Regions from separate parts of the Homo sapiens genome. Here regions 1 and 3 are each linked to region 2. Evidence: fine-mapped expression QTL. A gene starts in region 2. Each other region holds a variant in brackets. All regions are shown on one strand. Distances are from middle to middle.

Region 1 (10,536 bases), 20 kb after region 2:
GCTTTTCATCTTGTAGCCATCTTATTTAGGAATCAAAAGCGGGAGGCAGGTTTGTGTGACCCAGTTCCCAGCTTAACTTTTCCCTTTGGCTAAATGAGTTTGGGGTCCCAAAGTTTAATTTCCCTTCACAGAACACAGTTTTATTTTATAAAATTAACAAAAACACACAATATGTAGATACATATTGATAAAAATAAAACTATGTAAAAAGGTAAACAACAGAATATTCAATTTAGTAATAAAATAACCAACTGTGGATGGTTATCTTGAATTGAAGGGTTGGAAATAAGGGATACAGGAAAATCACACACAATAAACTAAATTGGAAGATGGGCCTAATGCTAACACCAAAAATGGACCTCTTGACGGCAGAATTGCATTTATCTATCCAGCCTCAGGAAGAGTTACACAACCTCAAGTTTCCTCAAGTGAGGCTGTGTGTCTATGAAATGTGGGGCATGGAGAAGCAAGCATAGCACAGTTTTCCAGGAGGCGCTGGCTTAATAAAAGAGGGTGGAATGTGAGGGGCCAAACTTTTCATGTGTAGATCCCCTCTCAAACTCTACAACCAGATAATTCATTAGTTTAGTGGTGAGAACTAAAAGATGAGACATGAAACTAAAGTTATTCAGGTATAATTGTACCTTATAGAAACTGGACAAGGGGGATGCCACTTTTCCCACTTATACAATCATTCAGTGTATTGAACTACCCTGTGAAAAGATAAGTACAATTGCATTAATAGATTAAGTAAACTACAACAAGGTATGGGGTCACACACCTGTAGTCCCAGCTACTCAGGAGGCTGAGACAGGAGGATTGGTTGAGCTCAGGAGTTAAAGGCTGTAATGAGTTATAATCATGCCACTGCACTCCAGTATGCGTGACAGAGTAATACTTCATCTCTTGAAAAATAAAGAGAGAAAAGAGAGAAAGAAATTATAGCTTCAAACTCTATGCTATTTTGAAGACATAAAGTAAAATGATAAAAAGAGTTGAAAATAAAGGAGTGGACAAAGATACATCTGAATCTAATCAATTTTTTGAACTTTTATTTTAGGTTCAGGGGTACATTGGGTATATTTTAGGTTCAGGTGGGTGGAGGGATGTCCTTTAGTTCTGTCCTTTGTCCAGTACCCATGAAGATAAGCTGTTAATTTACATTGTTAGGGTGAAATTCAACAGAACTATTTTAGGGTACAGATATCAAGGTCCACAAGAAATTTCCTTGTGAGCAAACTGAAGATGGTATATAGCCTTTTGTCTTTGTAGCTCTCTATTTAGAGGAAAAAATAAGAGGCCATTTTATGTGACTTGGGTCCAAGCTTGACTTTTCCCTTCAACTTAGGGAATTTGGGGTCCTAGTATTTTTATTTGCCCTTCCTAGCTGTTATATGTAAGTTGCTCTGGTGATTTTTCCTGAAGTTTATATTGCCTAACTTCAGTTGGCAGGGCTTTAAGAAAAAGCACAATTTTAATCTTTAGTGAGTCTAACCAAGAAAAATGGAAACATCAGTTCAGAGACTTGTAGAGACAAAAATATTTAGTATTTGGTCTAAATTGTAGCCAAATAACAAAAACTCAAAAACAATGGGCAGGGCTAGAGTCTAATAACAGGTGTACTATAGTGTTTTTTCTGAAATGCAATTTTTCTTTCTTTTTTTTTTTTTTGAGATGGAGTCTTGCTCTGTTGCCCAGGCTGGAGTGCAGTGGCACTATCTCGGCTCACTGCAAGCTCTGCCTCCTGGGTTCACACCATTCTCCTGCCTCAGCCTCCTGAGTAGCTGGGACTACAGGCGCCCACCACCACACCTGGCTAATTTTTTGTATTTTTAGTAGAGACGGGGTTTCACCATGTTAGCCAGGATGGTCTCGATCTCCTGACCTCATGATCCACCCGCCTCGGCTTCCCAAAGTGCTGGGATTACAGACTCGAGCCACCGTGCCCGGCCCCCGCAATTTTTCTTTCTTTAGTCTCTCATTTATACCAAAGACAAATCATAGTAAGACTAATTTACTTGTAAAATGTTTTAGTCTTACTATATTTGGCCTGATTCTTTGCATAAAGTATAGCAAGAATAGTGATTAGTGATGTAGGCATTTTTTAAGTTGGTGTTGCTAGAACTTTTTTTTTTTTTTTTTTTTTGAGATGGAGTCTCTCTCCGTTGCCCAGGCCGGAGTGCAATGGCGCGATCTCTGCTCACTGCAACCTCTGCCTCCCAGGTGCAAGCAATTCTCCTGCCTCAGCCTCCCAAGTAGCTGGGATTACAGGCGCTCACCACCGCACCTGGCTAATTTTTATATTTTTAGTAGAGACGGGGTTTTGCCATGTTGGCCAGGTTGGTTTCGAATTCCTGCCCTCAGGTGATCCGCCCACCTCGGCCTCCCAAAGTGCTGGGATTACAGGCATGAGCCACTGTGCTTGGCCACTAGAACTTTTTCATAAGGAATCTCAGGTTACACTTTTAAAAGCTTCTTAAAGCTGAGAAGCCAAGCCAAAGATTTGCCATCAGACTGTGCTTATAAAACCAGTGTATAAAACTGTGTAAAATATGTGTGTATAAAACCAGTGAATTCCTCTCTTTTTGAGGTTCCCAAAATATCTGGAGAGTCCTGGGCCTGTCATAAGGTGATGTTATTTACTTACCACAAGATCATCAGGAACCTCGTAAGGGAGCCATGTAGATGAGGCACCAAGCCAGTCTTTCCAAGGGGCTTTTTATTTGCTCTGTGAAGACAACCTAAATTGCTCAAAGCAGTCTGGTCATATCCAAAAATATATCATTCCAGTTAAAGCCTTGGTAAAATAACCAGTATATCCAATTGTGAGCTGTTACAAAAGAAAGCAGATTCTTACTGTGTATGCAAATAACTATATTGCCATAAATTAAGAATACTCACGAATAGCTTCCAAATTTTGGAGAAATCAGGTAGAGAAAGGTAAATGTTTCCTTGTTTTTTTTTTTTGTTTTTTTTTTTGAGACAGAGTCTCGCTCTGTCAACAGGCTGTAGTGTAGTGGCGTGATCTCGGCTCACTGCAACCACCACCTCCCAGGTTCAAGTGATTCTCCTGCCTCAGACACCCGAGTAACTGGGACTACAGGCGCGTGCCACCACACCTAGCTAATTTTTGTATTTTTAGTAGAGATGGGGTTTCACCATGTTGGCCAGGATGTCTCAATCTCTCGACCTCGTGATCCGCCTGCCTCAGCCTCTCAAAGTGCTAGGATTATAGAAGTGAGCCACCACGCTCGGCAAATGTTTCAATTTTATTCACAAAAGTATACTTTACCCAATTGTTGTAAACTATAAATATTAATGTTTAAAATAAAATTTTTCTTGACTCAAAAACAAAACAGGAAAAGAATCAGCAATATTTTAAGCAAAAAAGTTACAAAAATTATTTTAGTCTTTTATCAGTTTAGTTCCATGTAATTCATTCCTGTTCTGCTTGAAGTTATCAACTTTCATGAACCTATTAACTTTGTTTACTAGAGTCTTGAAAAATTTCACATTGTTCAATGTTATGATCTCCAAAGTTATCAAAAACCTGTATTCAAGAGTACTTGTCAGGATCCTTATGAATTTTTTTGAAGAAGAATCAAATTTTGGACTATAGCTGATTATAAACTGTCTTTCAAGAAGAATGAAAATAAAACAATAAATGTCTATGGATGGCAAAAGACTTAGAATAGCCGTAATTAAAGACACAATTGACAGCCAGGTGTAGTGGCTCATGCCTGTAATCCCAGCAATTTGGGAGGCCAAGGTGGTCGGTTCACAAGGTCAGGAGATCAAGACAATCCTGGCTAACATGGTGAAACCCCATCCCTACTAAAAATACAAAAAAAAAAATTAGCTGGGCATGGTTACAGGCGCCTGTACTCCCAGCTACAGGTAGGAGGGAGGTAGGAGAATGGCATGAACCCAAGGAGGTGGAGCTTGCAGTGAACCGAAATGGCGCCACTGCACTCCAGCCTGGGTGACATAGTGAGACTCCGCCTCCAAAAAAAAAAAAAAAGACACAATTGACAAGAAAATTTGCTTATTTCTGTGGCATATAACAATTTAACACAATAATCATATGAATCATAACATAGGCCAAGACATATCATAATTTTAGGAATCTCATACAATTTTGGAGCACATATTAATAACACATTTCTGCAAATGTAACTCAAAGTTAAATGCCACTTCTATTTGACAGTGTTTTCCATATGATTTTTATATACCAAAATTAAAAGTTAGTTTCAGGTCAAAAAGACTTAATTTTAGAATATAAAATTTGATTTTGAGAAGTTTGTCAACTATTAAAGGCTTAAAACACTTGATAGGAAAATAAGAAAGGTTTCAAACCCTGGATCAAAATAGAATTACACATAAGTAATCCTTATCTTACACAAATAAGTTACTCATTTAGCCAAAGTGATAATTCAAAGATTTCAAAAAGCAAAAACCCTTACTCTTTGATAGAGAGGAGACTCAGTTCTCTAAACAGTCAAAAAGACAAAGACAGCATGAGGCAAACTCTCTTTTTTCTTTTGCAATGTATTTAAAAGGTGAACAAAAAATCTTGCATTTGTTATCTCTTTTTTTTTTTTTTTTTTTGTTGTGTTCTAGGAAAACTTTATTTATAAACACAGGCAGCCAATAGTTTGCCAACTCCTATTTTAGAACATGAGTGAGAATCATCAATAAAACTACAAATCTTTGCAACAGTCAGAATAAGAAAATAGTGAATTAAAGACTATTAGCATTTCAGCCATCTAGGACAGTGTTCTTCTCATTATCATACGTAAATATTTGTTTTGTTTTTTTTTTTTTTTAATTGATCATTCTTGGGTGTTTCTCGCAGAAGGGGATTTGGCAGGGTCATAGGACAATAGTGGAGGGAAGGTCAGCAGATAAACAAGTGAACAAAGGTCTCTGGTTTTCCTAGGCAGAGGACCCTGCTGCCTTCCGCAGTGTTTGTGTCCCTGGGTACTTAAGATTAGGGAGTGGTGATGACTCTTAACGAGCATGCTGCCTTCAAGCATCTGTTTAACAAAGCACATCTTGCACCGCCCTTAATCCATTTAACCCTGAGTGGACACAGCACATGTTTCAGAGAGCACAGGGTTGGGGATAAGGTCACAGATCAACAGGATCCCAAGGCAGAAGAATTTTTCTTAGTACAGAACAAAATGAAAAGTCTCCCATGTCTACTTCTATCCACACAGACCCGGCAACCATCCGATTTCTCAATTTTTTCCCCACCCTTCCCGCCTTTCTATTCCACAAAACCGCCATTGTCATCATGGCCCATCCCCAGTGAGCCGCTGGGCACACCTCCCAGACGGGGTCGTGGCCGGGCAGAGGGGCTCCTCACTTCCCAGTAGGGGCGGCCGGGCAGAAGCGCCCCTCACCTCCCGGATGGGGCGGCTGGCCGGGCGGGGGGCTGACCCCCCCACCACCCTCCCGGACGGGGCGGCTGGCCAGGCAGAGGGGCTCCTCACTTCCCAGTAGGGGCGGCCGGGCAGAGGCGCCCCTCACCTCCTGGATAGGGCGGCTGGCCGGGCGGGGGGCTGACCCCTCCACCTCCCTCCCGGACGGGGCGGCTGGCCGACCCCCCCCGCCGCCTCCCTCCCGGATGGGGCGGCTGGCCAGGCAGAGGGGCTCCTCACTTCCCAGTAGGGGCGGCCGGGCAGAGGCGCCCCTCACCTCCCGGACGGGGCGGCTGGCCAGGCGGGGGGCTGATCCCCCCACCTCCCTCCCGGACGGGGCGGCTGGCCGGGCGGGGGGCTGACCCCCCCACCTCCCTCCCGGACGGGGCGGCTGGCCGGGCAGGGGGCTGACTCCCCCTCCCCCCTCCCGGACGGGGCGGCTGGCTGGGCGGGGGCTGACCCCCCCACCTCCCTCCCGGACGGGGCGGCTGGCTGGGCAGAGGGGCTCCTCACCTCCCAGTAGGGGCGGCCGGGCAGAGGCGCCCCTCACCTCCCGGACGGGGCGGCTGGCCAGGCGGGGGGCTGATCCCCCCACCTCCCTCCCGGACGGGGCGGCTGGCCGGGCGAGGGGCTGACCCCCCACCTCCCTCCCGGACTGGGCGGCTGGCCGGGCGGGGGGCTGATCCCCCCACCTCCCTCCCGGACGGGGCGGCTGGCCGGGCAGAGGGGTCCTCACTTCCCAGTAGGGGCGGCCGGGCAGAGGCGCCCCTCACCTCCCGGACGGGGCGGCCGGCCGGGCGGGGGGCTGACCCCCCCACCTCCCTCCCGGACGGGGCGGCTGGCCGGGCAGAGGGGCTCCTCACTTCCCAGTAGGGGTGGCCGGGCAGAGGCGCCCCTCACCTCCCGGACGGGGCGGCTGGCCAGGCGGGGGGCTGATCCCCCCACCTCCCTCCCGGACGGGGCGGCTGGCCGGGCAGGGGGCTGACCCCCCCTCCCCCCTCCCGGACTGGGCGGCTGGCCGGGCGGGGGGCTGACCCCCCCACCTCCCTCCTGGACGGGGCGACTGGCCAGGCAGAGGGGCTCCTCACTTCCCAGTAGGGGCGGCCGGGCAGAGGAGCCCCTCACCTCCCGGACGGGGCGGCTGGCCGGGCGGGGGCTGACCCCCCCCACCTCCCTCCTGGACGGGGTGGCTGCTGGGCGGAGACGCTCCTCACTTCCCAGACGGGGTGGCTGCTGGACGGAGGGGCTCCTCACTTCTCAGACGGGGCGGTTGCCAGGCAGAGGGTTTCCTCACTTCTCAGACGGGGCGGCCGGGCAGAGGCGCTCCTCACATCCCAGACAGGGCGGCGGGGCAGAGGTGCTCCCCACCTCTCAGA[C/T]GATGGGCGGCCGGGCAGAGACGCTCCTCACTTCCTAGATGGGATGGCGGCGGGGAAGTGGCGCTCCTCGCTTCCTAGATGGGATGGCGGCCGGGCAGAGACGCTCCTCACTTTCCAGACTGGGCAGCCAGGCAGAGGGGCTCCTCATATCCCAGACGATGGGCGGCCAGGCAGAGACGCTCCTCACTTCCCAGACGGGGTGGCGGCCGGGCAGAGGCTGCAATCTCGGCTCTTTGGGAGGCCAAGGCAGGCGGCTGGGAGGTGGTTGTAGCGAGCCGAGATCACGCCACTGCACTCCAGCCTTGGCACCATTGAGCACTGAGTGAACGAGACTCCGTCTGCAATCCCGGCACCTCGGGAGGCCGAGGCTGGCGGATCACTCGCGGTTAGGAGCTGGAGACCAGCCCGGCCAACACAGCAAAACCCCGTCTCCACCAAAAAAAAAACGAAAACCAGTCAGGCGTGGCGACGCGCGCCTGCAATCGCAGGCACTCAGCAGGCTGAGGCAGGAGAATCAGGCAGGGAGGTTGCAGTGAGCCGAGATCGCAGCAGTACAGTCCAGCTTCGGCTCGGCATCAGAGGGAGACCGTGGAAGGAGACCGGGGAGAGGGAGACGGAGAGGGAGACGAGAGGGAGGGGGAGGGGGAGGGGGAGGGGGAGAGGGCTTGTTAGAGAGCTTGTTATCTCTTATATGGAAATTTTGTTAAAAAATTTGTATCTCTATATCCGTATATTATTAATGCTAAAGCTAATTTTAGTAAAATTATGAACAGGTCTATCTAACCTCAATTAGTTTTGACCACAGAAGATAAGATTTGTATAAACCTTTTATAACCTTTTATAATTTTTTAAATTTAGTTTTATCTGTTATTAACTATTAAAAATTTAAAACTTTAAAACAAACATCTAAACTAAGCTAGGTGTGGCAGCTCACACCTGTAATCCCAGCACTTTGGGAGGCCGAGGCAGGAGGATCCCTTGAGTCCAGGAGTTCAAGACCAGCTTGGGTAATAAACTGAGATCCCGTCTCCACAAAAAAAAATATTTAATTACCCAATTATGGTTGTGTGCACCTACAGTCCCAGCTACTTGGGAAGCTGAGGCAGGAGGAACCCTTGAGCACAGAAGTTTGAGGTTATATAGTGAGCTGATAACACCACTGCAGTCCAGCCCAGGCAACAGAATGAGACCCCATCTCGAAACCCTCAAAACTGAACAACATTTTTCTTACCAACAACTATATTTTTATGTCTTTTTAATAACCTTTTTTTTTTTTTTGAGACTAAATCTTGCTCTGTCACCCAGGCTGGAGTGCAATGACACGTTCTCGGCTCACTGCAACCTCTGCCCCTCGGGATCAAGCGATTCTCCTGCCTCAGCCCCCTGAGTAGCTGGGATTACAGAAGCGTGCCACCACACCCAGCTAATTTTTGTATTTTTAGTAGAGACAGGGTTTCGCCATGTTGGCCAGGCTGGTCATGAACTCCTGACCTCAGGTGATCCACCCACCTCCTCCTCCCAAACTGCTGGGATTACAGGCATGAGCCCCTGCGCCCTTGCCAATCTTCTTTATTTAAAACATCTTTTTTGTATATGTTGCATATAGAAGTGTTTTTGTGTATGTTGTATATATTTTGTATATAGAAGCATTTTTTGTATCTAGAAGGCTTTTCTTTTCCTTTTTTTTTTTTTGTGAAATAGAGGATCTTACTCTCTTACTCTGTTGCCCAGGCTGGAGTACAGTGGCATGATCATAGTTCACTGCAGCCTAGACCTCCTGGGCTCAAGCAGTCCTCTCACTTCAGCCTCCTGAGTAGCTGGGACTACAGGCATGTGCCACCATGCCTGGCAAATTTTTTTTTTTTCATAGAGACAAGGTTTCACCATATTGCCCAGACTCATCTTGAACTCCTGGGCTAAAGCAATCTACCAGCTTTAGCCTCCCACAGTGCTGGGACTACAGGCATGAGCCACCATGCCTGGCCTAACCTAGAAGTTTTAATTATACATAATAATTATAATATTAATGCTTAATAACTCTGATTTTTAGTGAAAAATCAAGGAAATAAGTAATTTTAACTGTTATATACCAGATGTAGAGACCAATACAAAGGAAAGAGCTCTCAAGACAGTCTCTGTAGGACCTGATTTCTCTCAGCATGGCCAGGAGGCACAGCTGGACTAGGGAAAGTGAGGCACAGGTCATGTCCCCAGTCCTCACAACGGCCACTGGTCTAGGCCACTGGTATGGGTCTCTCATATATATATATGGCTTGAATATCAGCTTTTAATTAAGCTGACTTCTGACCATGTAGCTCTTTTTTAATTAAAAAAATCTTTCAAAATTTCTTATTATCAGATTTTAGCTGAGACAAACAGCTAACATTGCTGGCTTTTGAACTTTTTAACCAAAGACACCCTACATAACCAAGAATGCATGAGGTGTCTCCAAAGAGGCACAAAGAAGTACTCACAAGATCCAGAACCAACTTCAAAGATAGCTCAAAGAAGTAAGAGTTTTGCTAATCACAAATGGGGTATAATTTGTATCTGTCTGATTATATTCTCTCTAGGGTCTCAGCTTCTCATCTGGCCATCACAAAGGCCCAAAAAGCCCCATGTGCCCTTACAGATGGAAGACAATCAAAAGCTGTCCATGGAAAGGAAAAAGATGAAAAACAAATGAGTACCCCCAAAAGTAAAAAGTCACATGATTATCAAACCAAAAGGGGCTGATTCCCTGCCCAGGAGTCAAACCCAGGCCACTCTGGTGAAAGCAGAGAATTTTATCTAAACTACAAGGTGGAGCAGACTACTTAGTGAATCTTGAATGGGATCCAAAGTAAGGAGTTTGAGCTCATAAAGGGTTTTAACTTTGTTTTCAGTTAGGGGTTTGCTCTTTAATTTTGTCAAGAGAATTTCTAAGGCTAGCCATGACACCATTGTATGTCTTTCTTTTAATGTAATCTTCCTATAAATACAAATAAGGCAATTGTTGAGAATGAGAGATCTTTAAAAATGTTTTTTGAGTTTAGGAGTCTTTCTAATTTAAAGGATCCATCGTCTGGACATTGGAAATTAGAATTTCCACTGGTATACTTAATTCAATGCAACAGCCTCTTCATTGGAAAACCCAAGATATAAATTTCTAGGTTTAATGTAAGTTTTTATCATTTAAGAAAAAGATGTTTCTTGAAGAGGCATAGAAGTGGCAATCCTAAAGAGTCTCTCCCTCAAAAATTTACTCCCAGGAATAGGCCAAGATAGAAAGATTCTTATTGCCACACATGGTTAAGGATGCTGTTTGTGCATACAGTGCCTCTGGTGACTTAGAAATTTGTGGGGATCACCAGTCACAGACCTCTTAATTTGTGACACCAAGTAGGCTCTTTTAGGATAGGACTTTTCTAGCACTAACCAGGCAACAAGGGTTGAGGCAACAAAAACCCTGTAGAGATGGGACTTTTAAAGACAAACTACCTCAAGAGCTTGACACATTTGGAACAAAAAGTGTATTGCTTCAAATCTTATATGACTCTGGTTCCCAGCCATTTTCAGACTGGCCACCAGACATGATCCAAAAATCATGCCACCCAAATGATGGAGACAGAGAGTGCTCCCACTTGGTCACAGGTCAAGCTCAAGGACATAAAACAAGACAAGAGGGGAACCTCATCCAGTTTTTATTTTGGAAACCCACAGCAAAGTTTATACGCTGCTCTGATCACAATCAAAAC
Region 2 (10,536 bases):
GGATTTGGATATGAAGCAGGCTTCCCATGTGACCATTCTCACTTCTTATTCTGAAGTCTAACACTCTGCTTTTCTTTCTCTCCCTCTCTTCATTGATTCTTCTAGTGGCTGGTGTTTGGGTATTGTGGGAACTGAGCTTTCATCTCCTATGTTAGCCATAGAGATGAGGGCTTTGAGGGCACCATGGAATCCGATTGCTGGAAATAAATCAATCTTAAAGGAAAGGAAAATTTAAAAATCAGGTGCAACAAAAGCAAAATGAGAAAACTGCTAAACTCTACAATTCTATAAAGAAGAATTGCATAAAAAGGAAATAACAGGAAAAGGTAAGAAAATTTAAAAGGATATCAGAAAATATAGCATACAGGGTCAGAAAGATTTGAGAATATGACGAGATGGTTTTAGAAGGCAGGATGGGGCCGGGCACGGTGGCTCATGCCTATAATCCCAGCACTTTGGGAGGCTGAGGCAGACGGATCACGAGGTCAGGAGATCGAGACCATCCTGGCTAACACGGTGAAACCCTGTCTCTACTAAAAATACAAAAAAAAAAAAAAAAAAAAAAATTAGCCGGGCGTGTTGGCGGGCACCTGTAGTCCCAGCTACTCGGGAGGCTGAGGCAGGAGATTGGCGTGAACACGGGAGGCGGAGCTTGCAGTGAGCGGAGATCGCGCCACTGCACTCCAGCCTGGGAAACAGCGAGACTCTGGCTCAAAAAAAAAAAAAAAAAAAAAAAAAAAGGCAGGATGGGCTGGGCGCGGTGGTTCACGCCTGTAATCCCAGCACTTTGGGAGGCCGAGGCGGGCCGATCGCCTCAGGTCAGGAGTTCGAGACCAGCCTGACCAACATGGAGAAACCCCGTCTCTACTAAAAATACAAAATTAGCCGGGCATGGTGGCCCGCGTCTGTAGTCCCAGGCAGGAGAATTGCTTGAACCCGGGGAGGGGGTGGGGCGGAGGTTGCAGTGAGCCGAGATCTCGCCATTGTACTCCAGCCTGGACAACAGGAGTAAAACTCCGTCGAAAAGAAAGGAAGGAAGGAAGGAAGGAAGGAAGGAAGGAAGGAAGGAAGGAAGGAAGGAAGGAAGGAAGGAAGGAAGGAAGGAAGGAAGGAAGGAAGGAAGGAAGGAAGGAAGGAAGGAAGGAAGGAAGGAAGGAAGGAAGGAAGGAAGGAAGGAAAAAGAAAGAGAGAGAAAGAAAGAAAAGAAAAGAAAGGTGGCAGGATGGAATTTGGAAAAAATTAACATTTTAAAAATAGAAATGTAAAGGCGGATGGAAGGAGAGAAATTGAACAACAGGAAATGGATACCATGCATCTCTGAAATAATAACTGTTGAAAATTAGTGTGTCAATTTTAGGGTTTAATGCATTATTATAAACAAGTGGATAAACAAATATAAGTGCATATACCAGTTATGAAAACATGTCTTAAGGACTATGATTAGGACTTATCTATTACTCAGTGTCATGCTTCTAATGGCCGGTTGTGTTTTTTTTTAAAGAAAGAAAAGCCCCTATAAATGTGGCTCCTAAATATCCAGCCCTCGAGGTTGTTCCTTTGCAGGAGTCTGTTCCTTTTGGCCGGCTGCTGAACCTAGGGAGGCAGCGTGGGATGGAGTTGGCAAACATCCTGCAAGTCCACGACCCATGAAGAGCCGCTATGGTACCACTAGCAGTGCTAGGACCCAGAAACTAGCGAAACTGTTTAGGAGAAGCTGCGGGCTGGACCCACCAGCGGTGCTGCCACGGAGGTCAATCCTGCTTTGACAAGTGAGCGGTGCTGCAACTGAGAAAGTTACAGTCTGAGGAACCAGGGGTACTGGGACACAGGAAAAGGAGTCAGCCAGCTTGCTTTAGGCACACAGTAAGGGAAGGGTCCCCAGAGAACCTCCGGAATAAAAGAACTTGCACAGGCGCCTGGCCTAAATGTGCCCTTGCTGACTAAGGGCCCGCATATGCACTGGGGCAATGGGGGTGGAGCCACCAGGAATTTGCGCCTTATACAAACAGGGAACCTAGCCCCATCAGCTTTTAAATAAAAGCCCTTGTATTTAAATATTAAGGGGGCAACCAGAAACCTGTTCTCAGGACCCCTCTTTTTGCTGTGAGCTTTCCTTTTCGCTTAGTAAATTCTACTGCACTCACTCTTCGATATCTGCGTGCCCATTTCTTCATGATGGTGAAACAAAAACCTGAACTTAGCCGGGCGCGATGGCTCACGCCTGTAATCCCAGCACTTTGGGAGGCCGAGGTGGGTGGATTACCTGAGGTCAGGAGTTCAAGACCAGCCTGGCCAACATAGTGAAACCCTGTCTCTACGAAAAATACAAAAATTAGGTGGCAGTGGTGGCGTGTGCCTGTAATCCCAGCTACTCAGGAAGCTGAGACAGGAGAATCGCTTGAACCTGAGAGGCGGAGGCTGCAGTGAGCAGTGATGGCGCCATTGCACTCCAGCCTGGGCGACAGAGCGAGACTCCGTCTCCAAACAACAACAACAACAACAACCTGGACTTAGCTGAGCTGAGGAGCCAAAATCCTGCATCAATATCAAGTGTCACACTGAATAGCGGTGTGTCCTGTGGCAAACTTTATTTTTGGCGCAGTTAAGGCATTGCTACTAAGAAACTCGTCTCTGAGAAATATCGGTGGTTGGAAGGTTGTAGGGTGCTTCCACCGAGAAAGCGCCTACCCAGTGAAATACGCCTGTGACAGAAAAACCGAGGCCAAGCCCTGCCAGCAGTCTTGCCCAATCACGGTGCTGAGACAGTGAGACAGCCAGCCCGGGGAAAGTAGCCGTGCTAGGACACAGGAAGCGATACCACAAAGAACATGTGAGTCTTGTGAACAAGGAATGTTGTTTTGTTCAGCGCTACCAAGAGCGCGGCAACCGAGAAAACACGGAGTCGCCCCTAGTGGCGAAAGTGCGGATGCGAAACCGCTGGCTCGGCGTAAGAGCAGAGCCGCGGAAGAGAACCCTAGCGGCGGGGAACTAGCTCGCCTTCAGTGCTCACGGGAGAAGGCAAGTTAGAAAGAACCTGAGACGTGACACTGAAAATCAGTAGAAGAAATACGCCACATTTATTCTACCGGGGAAGACAGTGGGTAAGAAAAAAATACCGTAACATTTAAATTAAAAAATAATTAAAAATTTAAAAGCAAATAGAAATTAAAACAAAATACACTGATAACCTCGCTGCCAGAACAAGATACACCAAAAAAAAATTTTTTTTTTTGAGTATACAAAACATACAAAGCATCCTACAAACAGAAAGAAATTGCAAACAGGGTCGAATGGTGAGATCCTACCATTATATTTGTCAGCACTAAACCCGTGCCTCTTGCGCCTATCCGAAGTTTCCTCGGATTAAGAAGAAACAGCCATGGTTAAACCGGTATTTGCGACACCAACAATTATCTGTAGCCGACGTACCCCAACTTCTACATGAGTGAAAAATCGCCAGCATAGCCAGGGCGAGACTATTGCGAATTCTAACTTGGTATGATTTAAAAATTCCAGACACTGCTAAATTTTTTTAAATTGCATTCTTCAGTACCTAGATTAATACAGGAGTTATAAACCGCACGCATGGCTATAATGGGGGCTCCTATTACGGAACAGGAATTTGCTACTACTAAAATTATGTAGGCATGGTTAAAGCCAGAATTGTTACAACCAGAAATCGCAAACTGGAATAACTCTCAACTTGCTACGGTAAGAAATAACTAAACTCTGACTTGGTCAGACTAAGAAATCAGGAGTTTGAGACCAGCCCAGGCAACATGGCGAAATCCTGTCTCTAGGAAGGATACAAAAAATTACCCGGGCGTGGTGGCGCGTGCCTGTGGTCCCAGCTACCCCGGAGGCTGGGGTGGGAGGATCGCTTCAGCCCGGGAGGCGGAGGTTGCAGTGAGCCGAGATCGCGGCACTGCACTCCAGCCTGGGCGACAGAGCCGGACCCCGTATCAAGAAAGAAAGAGAAAAGAAAAAGAACCAAAGAAAAAGAAAAGTCACCATCGCACGGTTAAGTCTGCCTTGCTACAGCTAAACAGTGACTTCCTAGGACCAAGAAATCGCAGCCAGGGCTAGACCGATGCCCTAAATCGGGACTTGCTTAGGCTGAGAAATCACATTTTGGCTAGTTATTTGGACAAGAGGTAGAAATAGCGGGCACCGCGAAATCGAAACTTGCTAGGACCAAGAAGCCAACGACGGGCGAAACCGCAGGGGCCTGCGATAGAGACGCCAGCGGCGCCGCCGGGGGACTGGGTTCAGGAGGCCGAGCAGGAACCCGTGCGTCGGCGCTCGCGGCGCTGTGAAGAGACGGCGTCCGCGCAGCTCCTCTGCCTCTGGCTCGGAGGAGCGGCGGGCTCCCCCGCCCAGCGCCGGCGTCGCCCGGGAACCCCAGACTCTGCGCAACTGGCTGCGATTCCAAATCCCTCAGATCGGCTACCAGAGCGCTGCCGCCACCGAGAAAATGGAGGCACCGAGGAACAAGATGTGCCGCGACCAAGAGAACTCGGCTTGGCGAAATGGCGGTGCTGGGACCCTAAGAGTGACGCCAGCCGGAGGAGTTCCCAAGGACAACATCCATTTTGGCGGAACCAACGGTGTTGTCACGCAGAAAATGTCGACCCTCGGAAAAGAGAGGTTCTGCGACCGAGAAATTCGGTGCAACAAGTGCTGTGACAGAAAACCCCCCGCTCGGCGCTGCTGGCGAAAGAGCCAACAAAACGCTGGGTGCTGCCACCGTGACACCGACTTTAGGACCCCGGCCTCGGATGGAGAAAGGAGGGTACGGAGCCACCACATAACTTCCTAATGTCTTCAAATAGCGAAAGTGCTAGCCGGAAACTGCCGGCTGGGTTTACCTATTGGTGCTCGTGTGGGACTAGCAGATTCGAGAAACCAGCGGGACTGGAACCTAGTACACTTCGGCAGTTGAGAAATGACTTACCAGGACAAATACTGCTTCTGGCTCGATGGTGCTGCCCATGAACATCCGCCGGCTCTGAGAAACGAGCTGCACTGTCAGTGAGAAACCGTGGGCACTGAGAAACGAGCGGACTGCAACTGATAACTGCCCACCCAGTGCCACTACGACAAAGTGCTGCTGGCACTACTCCCACCCTCCGTCCTCAAATCAGTCCCCTCCCGCCTAAGAAGACCTTTATTTTTCCTAGCGAAGTCATACTGAGGGCCCCATCAACCGATCCCTTGCGATGCGCATGGGAAAAGGAGGCAGTATAGGGACCGAGAATCGGGCGGATTGGGCTGGCCCTGGTAACAAAAGCCATCCGGGTCGCCAACCGTCTTCCACTGCAAGAAACAAACCTTCCAGTGGCTGGGCTCCGCCCTTCTCCTTGGTCAGAGCCCTCCAGGCTCCTAAGGGCGAAGCCGACACCTCATCCCTTTGGAACTTGAAGTTCTCAGTCCAAGACCTCCGTGGAGAGTGAAAGACTCAATGCCTCCTGACCGAGGCTTCAGGCCTGCCCCGGCAGCTAGGTACCTCTCCAGGGGATGGAACTCTGTGGGAACTGCTATTTAATTCTGATGGTTAACTCTGTCAGATGGCCTTGATATATGGGAATAATCGTTGCAGGAGGGTAGGGGAAATAAGAATCGCAAGACTCTAGCACAGGACGTGTGGATTGATGGTGAGGCCTTTGCTCCCTCTCCCCTTGAAATCCTCAAAGGGCAGTTCCCGATTTCTATCACCTTTGAAATTCATCCCTGATGTCTTCTCCATCTTTGGGAAGTGCAATGCAATTTCAAGCTCTTGAATCTTCCCTCTCCCACATTTGTCAAATATACTGACGCTACAAACTCCTTTCTTACAGGAAACCTGAAACTGCCATTGAGCAGAAGGAAAACATCCCTTTCCAGAACCTTTCTCGTTTTTCTAAAAATCTGCACTTTTGGAAGTGATCCCCCAAAGAGACCTCCAGACTCTACCATGAGTGTCTCCAGCTGAACTCATCGTGTCTAATCCTCACCCTAGCTTATCCTGTTCAAATCATTTCCATCTTTTTCTGGATGAACCTGGGCGGATGTCAGACCAGAGAAGAGCACAGAATGTACCAGAGAGGTAAGAAGACCCATTTTGGGCTCTCACTTCTCACCCACTCCCAAGATGGTCACCTCCAGTCTTCCCCCCTATACCTTACCCTTTCTTCAGCTAGCCAAAACCTGCCCTGGTACTTGAGGCTTCTTCAGTTGCCTTCTTTTGCAGGCAGTAGAATAAAGGAAAGAGGGCAGTGTCAATAGAAGAAAAGTTACAGCCACTTTATCTAATTGAAGATACTGTGCAGAGCCTTTGAAAAAACAAAATATCTCACCCACCATTCCTCTCTCCGTTTCCACCCTAGCTTCCTATTTTAGCAAAAATGGTGGGATCAGCACCTCTGGAGGGAAGGGGTCACTCTTCCAGGTTAGGAATGTGGACAGGAGTTATGGAGCTTACTTCCCTAAAGGAGGAGGCATTCTAGTTCCGGCATTCAGATTCTGTCTGATTCCAATATGGTGTTTGTGTGGGGTGGTCAGAGAAAGGGCAAGTCGGCAACTGTATATTCCTCAGCAAGAGACTATAAGACATTTGCATTTGGAAAATCAGGAGAGATGCTGATATGGTTTGGCTCCGTGTCCCCACCCAAATCTCACCTTGAATTGTAATAATCCCCATGTGTCAAGGGTGAGACCAGGTGGAGATAATTGAATCATGGGGTTGGTTTTCCCCATGCTGTTCTCGTGTTAGTGAGTGGGTCTCACGAGATCTGATAGTTTTATAATTGCCTGGCATTTTCCCCTGCTGGCACACATTCTCCTGCGGCCCTCTGAAGAGGTGCCTTCCATCACGATTGTAAGTTTCCTGAGGCCTCCCCAGCCATGCAGAGCTTTGAGTCAATTAAAACTTCTTTCTTTATAAATTACCCAGTCTTGGATATTTCTTCATAGCAGTGTGGGAACAGACTAATACAGATGTGGTAGAGTTGGGTGCTGGGTGGCAATGCTAAGTGTATGCAGGTTCTAGGCACCAGATCAAATCTGGAATGCAAACTGTGGGACACAAACCACAAATGATGCCCAGCCTTTAATACTTTCTTTCATTGTTTGTCATATAGAAGAAGAAACAAAGAATAAAGAAAAGCATTTTTTTTGAGACGGAGTCTCGCTCTGTTCCCCAGGCTGGAGTGTAGTGGTACGATCTCGGCTCACTGCAACATCCACCTCCCAGGTTCAAGTTATTCTCCTGCCTCAGCTCCCAAGCAGCCAGGATTACAGGTGCATACCATCACACCTGGCTAATTTTTGTATTTTTAGTAAAGACAGGGTTTCACCCTGTTGGCCAGGCTGGTCTCAAAGTCCTGACCTCAAGTGATCCACCTGCTTCGGCCTCTCAAAGTGCTGGAATTACAGGCATGAGTCACAGTGCCCAGCCGCAAAGTATATTTTTGTAAAATTTCATCAAGATAAATCTGGCTAAACCAATAAACTAATAATAACAAAACTTGGGTTATTGTTGACTAAAGGAAGGTGGCACAAAATGGAAACATTTTTAAACATTCAAAAAAAAAAAAAGACTGGTCAGGCGCAGTGGCTTACACCTGTAATCCCAGCACTTTGGGAGGCCAAGGTGGGCGGATCATGAGGTCAGGAGATTGAGACCATCCTGGCTAACACGGTGAAACCCCATCTCTACTAAAAATACAAATCCTGGCTAACACGGTGAAACCCCGTCTCTACTAAAAATACAAAAAATTAGCCAGGCGTGGTGGCGGGTGCCTATAGTCCCAGCTACTCGGGAGTCTGAGGCAGGAGAATGGCGTGAACCCAGGAGGCAGAGCTTGTTTGCAGTGAGCCAAGATCGCGCCATTGCACTCCAGCCTGAGCGATAGAGCAAGACCCTGTCTCAAAAAAAAAAAAAAAAAACAAGGATAGTCTTTACACAGAAGTGGTATGCACAGGTGAATTGTCTGGGAAGTCAGGATGTTGCACAGAAGCTATGCAAGTCATAGATTAGAAAAGCAAGAATCCACATTCATGCTTTCCAGCATAGATGAGGAGATACTTTTTCTCCACCTTCTTAGATTCAGTGGCTGGGCAGAGAGTGCTGTGAATTCATCTGACAACAGGCAGATTAACACGAGAAAAGGAATATAAGTTTTTTATTTTTTATTTTTTTATTTTTTTGTTTTGAGACAGAGTGTCACTCTGTCTCCCAGGCTGGAGTGCAGTGGCTCACTGCAAGCTCCCACCTCCCGGGTTCACACCATTCTCCTGCCTCAGCCTCCCAAGTAGCTCAGACTACAGGCGCCCGCCACCATGTCCAGCTAATTTTTTTTATTTTTTAGCAGAGACAGGGTTTCACCTCCCAAAGTGCTGGGATTACAGGCATTAGCCACCGCGCCCAGCCAAGTTTTTTAATGTTTAATCTAATGTGCATGGAGGCATCATAGAAAGAACTGAATATCCAAAAGTGTGGTGAAATTTGAGACTTTAGATACCATCTTAATGATAGTGGCAGGAGGCAGACAAATCCTAGGGAGACAAGGGTGGGTCCCTGGTGAAACCCCACCTTCAAACCAAAGACAGTTTAAAGCATGAAAGCCAAGCTACAAGTCTCCAGTAAATCCATGGACCGGATTAAGAATCTCTCTTCCCCTTTAGCACACTTCCCTCTGATTGATCCACACACTTCACTTAGTGCACTTTCCTCTGATTGATCCCCACACTTCACCTATTTTACATATACCTGCCCTTCCCTAATTGTTTTTTTACACAGTTGTGCCCACCTTTGAGTGGTGCTTTTGTTTTAGCCTTTTTTGCATATGCACAAACCAATCAGCATGCACTCCCCCATTCTGAGCCTATAAAAGCCCCAGACCCTGCCACATTGGGAGAGAGACCACCCAACTTCTGGTGGGAAACCATCCTCGAATCCCCTCTCCACTGAGAACTGTTTTGTGGCTCAATAAAACTCCTCTCTGCCCTCCTCACTTTTTGATTTTCAGCATAACCTCATTCTTCTTGGATGCAGGACAACAACTCGGGATCCACCTAACACGGGTACAAAGAAGGCTGTAACACGGGAAGCAGCTGTTGGGCCAAACCAGCCCTGGAGCTGTAGGCCAGAGCAAGACCACAGGACTGACAGAGCTGTTAACACGCTGACATCTTTCGGGCTGCAGAGGGCGGGACTGAAAGAGCTATTAGCATGTTGTAACACCCACTCTGGGGCTTTGGGGTCACGGGCATCCCTGTTTGGGTGCCATCACATTCCCCTCATCTGGATGCCAGAGTCCACCATAGGAGTCACTTGCAACATGCCTGGTCCAGCCACAAGTCCCACACAGAGCCTGCTCCTGTGCTGGTGCTTGGAGCTACCAGTGGAACCCCACACTCACTAGCTCACACACCCCTCCTGCCAGGGGCTGAGTGCACAGTCATGGTGGCCACAGGATCTGCACCAGAGGACATGCCAGGCACAGCCCAGCAAACCGAGTAGATGGGGCATCTCCTGTGGTTAGCCTGGGCTCCAGCAAGGCCTAGGTAGGGCATCGCCAGCCAGAGGTCTCTGGCTGGCAAAGTTGCTGAGAAACATCCTATGTCATTAAGGAGATGGGGAGGGGCAGAGGGGCACTTATGGAAATATGAATGATTTTTTTTTTTGAGACAGAGTCTCTCTCTGTCGCCCAGGCTGGAATGCAGTGGCGTGATCTTGGCTCACTGCAAGCTCTGCCTCCGGGGTTCATGCCATTCTCCTGCCTCAGCCTCCCGAGTAGCTGGGACTACAGGTGCCCGCAACCACACCCAGCTAATTTTTTGTATTTTCAATAGAGACAGGGTTTCACTGTGTTAGCCAGGATGGTCTCGATCTCCTGAACTCGTGATCCATCCTCCTCAGCCTCCCAAGGTGCTGGCATTACTGGCATGAGCCACTGCACCAGCCACAAATGATATTTTAGAAGATAAATGGTCCTTTAGAAGAATAGATAAAAGATATGACAGTTTTTAGAGAATGTCTTTTTTTGGGTAGGGTGGGTGTAATCACCCAATGGTTTCATCTTGCCCATTGTCCACAAAGGCCAATGCACTGAGAACAGCAGCTTTTTTGCAGCAAAGAAAGACTTCAATAATTGCAGGGCTGGCCAAGTGGAAGGACAGGAATTCATTCCCAAATCCACCTCCCTGAGAATTCTTTTTTTTTTTTTTTTTTTTTTTTTTTGAGACGGAGTTTCACTCGTACTGCTGCCCAGGCTATATAGTGCAATGGCACCATCTTGGCTCACCACAACCTCCGCCTCCCAGGTTCAAGCGATTCTCCTGCCTCAGCCTCCCGAGTAGCTTGGATTACAGGCATGCACCGCCACGCCCAGCTAATTTTGTATTTTTAGTAAAGATGGAGTTTCTCCATGTTGGTCGGGCTGGTCTCAAACTCCCGACCTCAGGTGATCCTCCCGCCTCGGCCTCCCAAAGTGCTGGGATTACAGGCATGAGCCATGGCACCCGGCCAGGCTGAGAATTCTTAAGACAGGATTT
Region 3 (8,296 bases), 29 kb after region 2:
CACTGCAGTTTCCAGAACAGCAAAGAGACTTTGGGATCCTGCTGACAGCACCAAAACTGTAGAAGCTAAGGGAATATTTCCCTTCCTCCTCTGAAGGTTTGATGAAAAATCAACTGACAAAAGGCCAATTACTAGGGGAGATGGCATAGAAATTTACTAGCATGCATTGGGGGAAAGTCACAAGTGATTACCCTAACAATGGGGTATGAATGTTTATATACCAATTTAAGGTTACCAGAAAGAATGGGGGCTTAAGTCTGGCTACATCAATACAGGTTTTCTCTACAGATGAAGGTCTCCCTCATAAAACACAGTTTTTAGGACTACTTCTGTTTGCAGGCCCTCTGAACCACTATCATGAAGTATGTCAAACAAATAGATTTTGGAGTGAAATGTTTTTATTTCCTCAGGAAACCAGCCCTAACAACTCTGAGGCAAGAAGAGGCTTCAGGACTGGATATGGGACTTAGGTGACAGAAAGTCTCCTACCTCTTCAAAAGCACAAACATACTTTATTTCTGTTAAAGAAAAAATGTAACACAGTTGTTAGGATGGTAAAGCAGACTTCATTCAGCATTATTGCCATAGGTGTACTTTGCAGTAGAGGATTGAGATTGGGATCAGCTCCTAATACAAGGAAAATAAGGGATTTACAGCCAAAGACTGAGAGGTAGGGATGGAACGTGGGGCAGGACAGGGGTTAGTGAATGGAAAATTACTAAAAGGATACGTTAATTTTTTCTAAAGTGACCTAACAGTATTCTTGCTATAGGCAGACCAGGGTGATCAGATATCAATTGGAGAATAAGGAATGTGGTCAGATATCGAGGGCGAATCAGATATTGAAGATAGGGGATGCTGGCTAAAACTGGGCTCTTGAGGCAATGTCCAAGGTCCAAGCATAGGTGGGAAAGGGGTGAGGAGACTGTGTCTAGGGTTTGGTCAAGGAGGGTCTTTGTCAGTCCCTTCTACTTCACTCTGTAAAACCCCCTAGTAATTTTATTGGAACCTTAGGGAAGGTGTTACACAAACACAATTTAAGCTCAAGGTTGCCAGGAGATTTTGACCCCTTCATCCTAGAAATTCATGTGGTGGCCACTGTGATGAAGGAAACCCACATATCCTGGAAGAGGGAAGGCCTTGCCCATTTCTCACAAATCTGCTCATCCAGAATTGGCCTCACCAGTTAGGAGACTCAATTCATTTGGACCAATCCTGTCTTTCCACTAGAACTTTCCTGGCTCTACTTAAGCCCATTTTCCCCAAATGTGCTCTTCCAGAATTGGCCTTGCGAAGTGACTGCTTGGTTCTCTCTGCTTCTTCCTCATGCATCTTCCCAGTTCAGCATAAGCCACCATACTGATCCTAGGTTGACCCTTCTTCAACACCTGGAACAGCATCCAGGAACCTAGACAGAGGTCAATTTGGAGATTTGTTTGGCATCCTGGTCCCCACCCAAAATTGAGGTCCTAGCTCTGCAAACCACCCCCAGAGTACTCTGGTATCTCCATCCTGCACTCCTGGCTTCTCTTTCCATTCCCAGCTTTCCTATGGTGCAGGAAGGTGCCTCCCCTTTGGCCCCACATCCCCAGTAACTTACTTGAGACAAAGTTGCAATGTAAAAAGCCATGTTTGCTCATTTCCGTTGCCAGCATAATTTCACAAAGCCCCTGACTCTGTGATGATGTCCTTCTGTCTGGGAGAATGCTTTAAAAACAAAACAGGGGCTGGGCACAGTGGCTCATGCCTGTAATCCCAGCACTTTGGGAGGCCGAGGCAGGTGGATCACCTGAGGTCAGGAGTTTGAGACTAGCCTGGCCAACATGATGAAACCCCGTCTGTACTAAAATACAAAAATTAGCCAGGCATGGTGGCAGGTGCCTGTAATCCTAGCTACTCGAGAGGCTGTGACACAAAAATCACTTGAACTCGGGAGGTGGAGGTTGCAGTGAGCCGAGATCGCACCACTGCACTCCAGCCTGGGTGACAGAGTGAGAGTTTGTCCAAACAAACAAACAACAACAACAACAACAACAACAACAGGCAGGATACAGCACATTGCCCCCCACATCTCCTGTCTGAGTCACTATGTTCCTTAAAAGATAAATGAGCCGGGCGCAGTGGCTCATGCATGTAATCCCAGCACTTTGAGAGGTCAAGGCAGGTGGATCACCTGAGGTCAGGAGTTCAAGACCAGCCTGGCCAACATAGTGAAACCCCGTCTCTAACAAAAATACAAAATTTAGCTGGGCGTGGTGGTGGGTGCCTGTAATCCCAACTACATGGGAGGCTGAGGCAGAAGAAACGCTTGAACCCGGGAGGCAGAGGTTGCAGTGAGCCAAGAGCGCGCCACTGCACTCCTGCCTGGGCGACAAGAGCAAAACTCCATCTCAAAAAAACAAACAAACAAACAAAACACATAAATGAACTCAGTCCTTGCACATAATATGTGACACATATTTTCCTACACATAATATGTGACAGGGTTAGTGATTATGCTCTATAATCTATAACCAGATGTACTCTTGCACCCAAGCATTGATGTGATTCTGCTTTAATGTAAAATCTGAGCAAGTTTGACGTAAGTTCTGAAGGCATACTGAAACCTCCATGACCTGTATATAAGTTATGAGCAGAAACGCTGTTTCTAAGCAGTCTGCAAAATCTCTCTAAAAGACTCCTCCAGGGCTGTAAGTCCTCAGTCTGTAGTCCTCAGAAAGACTTCTAAATAAATTTAAATATTTAAAAGCTTGATTTTTTTTTTCTTCAGTTGACATTAACAAAGATTATCTCCTTGACCAATCTCTAGACAGGTTCCTGGGAGTACTCTTTACTAAGCTTCAACCTTGGTCTATAAAGACTTGAAAAACACTAACACAGTGTCTTACAGCTCAAGGCCACAACTCTGGGATGACCCTAGCCCTCCTTTAGATGCCTGACTGAGAAAGATCAAGGCTACAAAAAGAATATACTGTGTGTTCGAGGCAAGACCTGAAAATAGGGCTCCTGTCTCCCAGCCTCTGTGGGAGGGCAGGAGCCTAGCTTTGTTTAGCCCCAGTTAGGAGACTCAGTTCATATGGACCAATCCCCCCTTTCCACTTTCTATAATTTTTCACTTTCCTGTTTCTACGCAGGTCTTCCTCACTCACACACCTCCCTATTCCCTCAGTCTCCCTTTAAAACACCCAGTCACCTCTATACCAATAAAAGTTGTGTTCATGCTGGACTCCTCCCTATTGCACCAAGGGCCATGCACCTGTCCTGGCCCAGGCCCGGCCACCAGCTCCTCTGCTCCCTGTCCTTCCTCAGCAGCCAAACCAGAAACATGCATGGGTAAGAATTTTGCATTTTTGCACAGTTTTATCACGTGGGCAAAAACACATGTGCAAAGTTCTCTGCAGGCACGATCTCTACCATTGTGTTTGAGCAAACCTAGAGGTGTCATGGTAGCAATACCTTTTGGCACAGGATCACCCATTGAAGAGTCTCAGTGAAAGAAATCTCAAGGAGGCCAAAGGCAGGTGGCAGAGGCAGCCTTGCATCAACTCAGCCACTGCTCCTGGGCTCTACTCCCAACAAGACTTGGAACACTGGGTGGTGGCTGTTGGGAGGCAGGAGGAGGGTGATGCTTGGTAGGTCTCCATCATCTGATTTCTCAGGCTCCAGTTGTCTGTTCCTGGAGCAGGGTGATCCAGCCAAGTGAGGCAGTTAGGGAGTGCATTGGCAGGGCTCAAGGGAGGCTGTGACTTGGGGGCATCTCTGGGGGCATCTGTGTCTCCTCCTGGGTTGCAGTCATCGGTTCCTAGGTGGGTGGTTCTGTGCCCAGCCTAAAGGTGCTAGGCACTCTGGGTTCTTGTCTCAGGTGGGCCCATTTCAGAAGTCCACAGGAATGGGAAAGCAATTCAATGTCCTGGTGGTCCCAAGAGAGGTGACCCAGCTTTGGATAGAAAGCAGGCTGCCAGGGACTTGAATCCTCTTGTACACTGGAACATGCTCTACAGAATCCCAGGCCTCAAGCACAAGTTGTTGAAAGTGCTTCACATCTGTCCTGTTTCAGGTGACAAAGGATGAGTGCCCTTTTTTGTGGTCTTCTGGCTGATTAGGCAGTCCCAAGCAGATAGGGGCAAGCTGGGTGGTGACAGGAAGCCCAGAGCTGATCGCAACAGAAGAATGGCCTGGTGTTATAAACATAAAAGCCAATCACCTTTGATGAAATTTTCTAGAATGAAATCCTTTTGGTGACAGACTGGGTTAGAAGTTGAAAAGAAGAGTATTAGCTTCCTAGAAGGAAGCTCTTTTGGGGGACACTGGCTTGTAGTATGCTGCATGATTTGGGGCATGATTATTGCCCCAAATCAC[G/A]TAGGTAGTTCTGAAACCCAGGTCTCTTAGCAGAGGAATTCTTGGGGAGATGCCTAAGGAATGGTTTGGGTTTTGGATTAGAGGTGGGGCAGAGATAGTTGTACATTCCTAACTTGGACTTTCACAAGCCCAGTTTTGGCTTTTACTGATGAATTGCTAAGTTAGAAGGATTTCAGAATGTGTGTGTATATGTGTAATAGCAAGAAGCCAAGTTCTCTGGCTGGCTGACTCGGTTATTTTATCATCTCTGAAATGGAAGTGAAATTTGCTCTCATTTTACAAGGTAGCTTTCATGAAGGCATTCCATATAAAAGTGAATATTCAACATAGCATAGCAGAAAATAATTTGGTCAATTGCTATTAATACTAATATCATTATTATTGATTTTATCATGGATTCAAAGATAAAGTAATGAGAACAAATGTAAAACGGTACCTTTCTTGGAGTATTCTGTCTGAAAGTAGATTATGTTTCCTTCTCATATCATAGCCATAATGAAATTGTATTGTAATACGTTTTCATCTGAGTCAAACATTCTGTTTGCAAAAACATCAAGGGGTATGAGAACTAAAAATAAAATCCTAAGGCCTCCAACCAATTGAATGGACCCTCTATTGGCCAAGGGGACCCCAGAGAAACCTGAGTTCCTAGCTATGACAAGACAGGAGGTCAGACATAGCTTGTTATACCTACTCCCTTTTGCAGTTTAAACATGACTGACTAGCATTATTATTACAATAGGGATCATGAGACTGACAGAACAGACTCCTTATAGCATTAAGACACCAAACTATAAATGAGACCTAAGGCTGTGCCAGGCAAGGGTTGAATCACACATCTCTACACTTAAAAAACAAATTATGTTCTAACTACCACAAGGTTTTTTTTTTTTTTTCTAGCAGCTAATCAAGCGCTGGCCTCAAGATAATCACTATTAAAACCATTACAGTTCATCCATCGCCAGACAGTGACTAACTGAGGCCCTTGTTCCACAAGCTATAAATGCAGCTTTGATTGGACAAGAGACTGATTTCAGTAACTTTCTCCTAATAAGAAGACCACCAGCATGCACTGTTCACAGAGGCTGTGCACTTGAGTGCCTTCGTGTCCCTGTTTCACCTTTTGACATATATGGCCTAACTGTAATACATTTGAATGTTGTCTCCACCCCAGAATGAATATGGGCTGTATGTAACAGGCATATTTATTCAGTACACATGCATTAGGAACACATTCATGAATATTTATATGCCTCCTGTAACCTGTTGAATACGTATACTTGGTCAACCCATTCAACATAAATCCCTGTTCCACCCTCCACTTCCTCAAAGTGCCTGCTTCTGTCTTTGGCTGGGGACTACACTTTCCAGCCTGTCAGAATAACCACCCTACAGGCCATAACACATTATAAGAAATAAAATTAAGTCTGTGCATGGTGGCTTACATGTGTAATACCAGCACTTTGGGAGGCCAAGGTGGGCAGATCACTTGGGGCCAAAACCAGCCTGGAGTTCAAAACCAGCCTGGCCAACACGGCAAAACTGCGTCTCTACAAAAAAAAAAAAAGAAAGTTGTCCGGGGACAGTGACTAACACCTGTAATCCCAGCATTTTGGGAGACTGAGGCAGAGGGGTCACCTGAGCCCAGGGGTTTGAGACCAGCCTGGGTAACATGGAGAAACCCCATCTCTACAAAAAGCACCAAAATTAGCCAGGCATGATGGCACATGCCTGTAGTCCCAGCTACTAAGGAGGCTGAGGTGGGAGGATCTCCTGAGTCTGGGGAAGCTGAGGCTACAGTGAGCCATGATTGTGCCATTGCATTCCAGCCTGGGTGATAGAGTGAGACCCTGTCTCAAAAAAAAAAAAAAAAAAAAAAAAAGAAAAGAAAAGAAAAGAAAATCTCCTTTCTAAATTAATAATTGTGTGATTCTTTTAAGTTGACAGATACAAATGCAGATTTTTTTGGTCAAATATCATTCTTACTGTAAAAGTCTGATTAGTTTCAACATTTCACAAGCATGTGTTGATATCCTTCCATATGCCAGATGCGGTGATGGGAGCCATATACACAAAGATGAAGGACTGGCTACAGCTTTCACAGACCTTACAACCTACTGAGAGAGCAAAGACACAGTGAAGAGATCATTCAGAATACAGTCCAACTCCAAGATCATTGGGAGAGCTTATTTGAAGACCAGAAAGGTTACTGAACATGGTGACTCTCTTCAAAGCCAGACCTTTGTCCTTGAATTTAGGGCTTCAAAAAACAATAGTAGGGCCGGGCGCAGTGGCTCATGCCTGTAATCCCAACACTTTGGGAGGCCAAGGTGGGCAGATCACCTGAGGTCAGGAGTTCGAGACCGGCCTGGCCAATATGGTGAAACCCTGTCTCTACCAAAAATACAAAAAAAAAAAAAAATTACCTGGGCTTGGTGGGGGGTGCCTGTAATCCCAGGTACTCAGGAGGCTGAGACAGGAGAATTGCTTGAACCCGAGAGGCAGAGGCGGCAGTGAGCCGAGAACGCGCCATTGCACTCTAGCCCGGGCGACAAGAGTGAAACTCCATCTCAAAAACAAAAACAAAAAGAAAAACAAACAAACAAACAAACAAAAAAACAGTAGAAAACCTAATGAGAAACCATGGCACAGGAAAACAGAATAGCAGAACGGTCAGAGGAAGCATAGCACTAGAAGTTTACCTATTTGAAAGATTTATGAGACACTTAAGACAGAAGAGCTCTGCCTGTCTGGTTAAAATGGTGGGACAGACAAGATTTATTTGAGCTCAGCAGCACTTGAAGTCCACTGGAGAGGTGTAGAGCAGCTAGCCCATGTTATGGTTGCAATGGAAAAAAGTCAATAGGGTGAGAATCAAGAATGGATCCATCTTGTGGATGATGACATCATTCAGCAACAAGGTACAATTGCTACAATAGAGGATCATATTTCCAAGCCAGGTCCAAAGAGGCATCAGGGCTGTCAAGCTTAGGTATAAATGTTGACAGAATCTTCCTTTGGATTACCTAAGGCTCTGAATTTCTGGGAAGATCTTGATGCCCTCTAACCCCAGCAAATTGATGCTAGCTATACATTGAATCTGACAGTGGCAGCTCAAACAGATTTTAAACACATCTTGTATGTATCCATTCATACACATTTACATATTAAAAACATGTCTTCAAGTTTGAGCTTTCTTGGTGTATCTCAGGTACCTTTTGACATGGTTCTCTTTTTATTGTATGTACTAATAGAGTGAGAACCTACTTATTACTTGGGGGCTGCACCAAGCCATTCATGATAGCTCGACCCCCATGACCCAAACACCTCCCTTTAGGTCCCACTTCCAATATTATCAAAATCTTTTTTATTTTATTTATTTATTTATTTATTTATTTATTTTTTGAGATGGAGTCTTACTCTGTTGCCCAGGCTGGAGTGCAGTGGCGCGATCTTGGCTCACTGCAAGCTCCACCTCCTGGGTTCATGCCATTCTCCCGCCTCAGCCTCCCAAGTAGCTGGGACTACAGGTGCCCGCCACCACGCCTGGGTAATTTTGTGTGTGTGTGTGTGTGTGTGTGTGTATTTTTAGTAGGGACGAGGTTTCACTGTGTTAGCCAAGATGGTCTTGATCTCCTGACCTTGTGATCCGCCCGCCTCAGCCTCCCAAAGTGCTGGGATTACAGGTGTGAGCCACCGCGCCTGGCCTTTTTTATTTTTATCAAGACAGGGGTCTCTCTGTGTTGCCCAGGCTGGTCTTGAACTCCTGGCCACAAGCTATCCTCCCACCTTGGCTTCCCAAAGTGCTGGGATTACAGGTGTAAGCCACTGCTCTGTCCCGAACCAAATTTCAACATGAGATTTGGAGGGGGACAAATATTCAAACAATATCATTGAGATTAAAAATTATTAGAGAAGTTTCAGGGTTAGAGCCATG

Direction of the effects. Alleles are on the strand shown, and positions count from the first base shown. SD is a standard deviation of normalised expression in the study named.
As copies of T replace C in region 1, the expression in esophagus mucosa of the gene that starts at base 5,307 in region 2 goes down (small effect, 0.31 SD a copy in GTEx).
For the expression in monocytes of the gene that starts at base 5,307 in region 2, allele A in region 3 goes with a lower level than allele G (moderate effect, 0.51 SD a copy in BLUEPRINT).

What was found. PIP is the estimated chance that this variant, and not a neighbour inherited with it, causes the effect. A credible set is the group of variants that fine-mapping cannot tell apart.
Region 1: its variant is the best candidate, but not a certain one, in a credible set for the expression of ANXA2R-OT1 in esophagus mucosa (GTEx, PIP 0.73).
Region 3: its variant is the best candidate, but not a certain one, in a credible set for the expression of ANXA2R-OT1 in monocytes (BLUEPRINT, PIP 0.50).

The regions. Positions count from the first base shown.
Region 1 is chr5:43,081,719-43,092,254 of GRCh38, forward strand. The region is part of intron 2 of LOC100506639 (a long non-coding RNA gene); the gene reads left to right. LOC124900972 (a long non-coding RNA gene) reads right to left here. Exons shown (of 2, transcript XR_007058762.1): 2 at 10,467-10,536. Among named protein-coding and RNA genes, the nearest start is that of ANXA2R-OT1, 20 kb to the left of the region's middle. The variant C/T (reference allele first, on the strand shown) is at 6,800.
Region 2 is chr5:43,062,133-43,072,668 of GRCh38, forward strand. ANXA2R-OT1 (ANXA2R overlapping transcript 1) reads right to left here and starts at 5,307. Exons shown (of 3, transcript NR_104651.1): 1 at 5,166-5,307; 2 at 4,955-5,025. It overlaps LOC100132356 (a long non-coding RNA gene), which reads right to left and starts at 4,839. Exons shown (of 1, transcript NR_034127.1): 1 at 3,055-4,839. It overlaps LOC100506639 (a long non-coding RNA gene), which reads left to right and starts at 4,891. Exons shown (of 3, transcript NR_102752.1): 1 at 4,891-5,654; 2 at 5,838-6,085. RefSeq lists an enhancer at 4,519-4,918.
Region 3 is chr5:43,092,613-43,100,908 of GRCh38, forward strand. It overlaps LOC124900972 (a long non-coding RNA gene), which reads right to left and starts at 4,881. Exons shown (of 2, transcript XR_007058762.1): 1 at 4,796-4,881; 2 at 1-4,175. It overlaps LOC100506639 (a long non-coding RNA gene), which reads left to right. Exons shown (of 3, transcript NR_102752.1): 3 at 411-946. The variant G/A (reference allele first, on the strand shown) is at 4,360.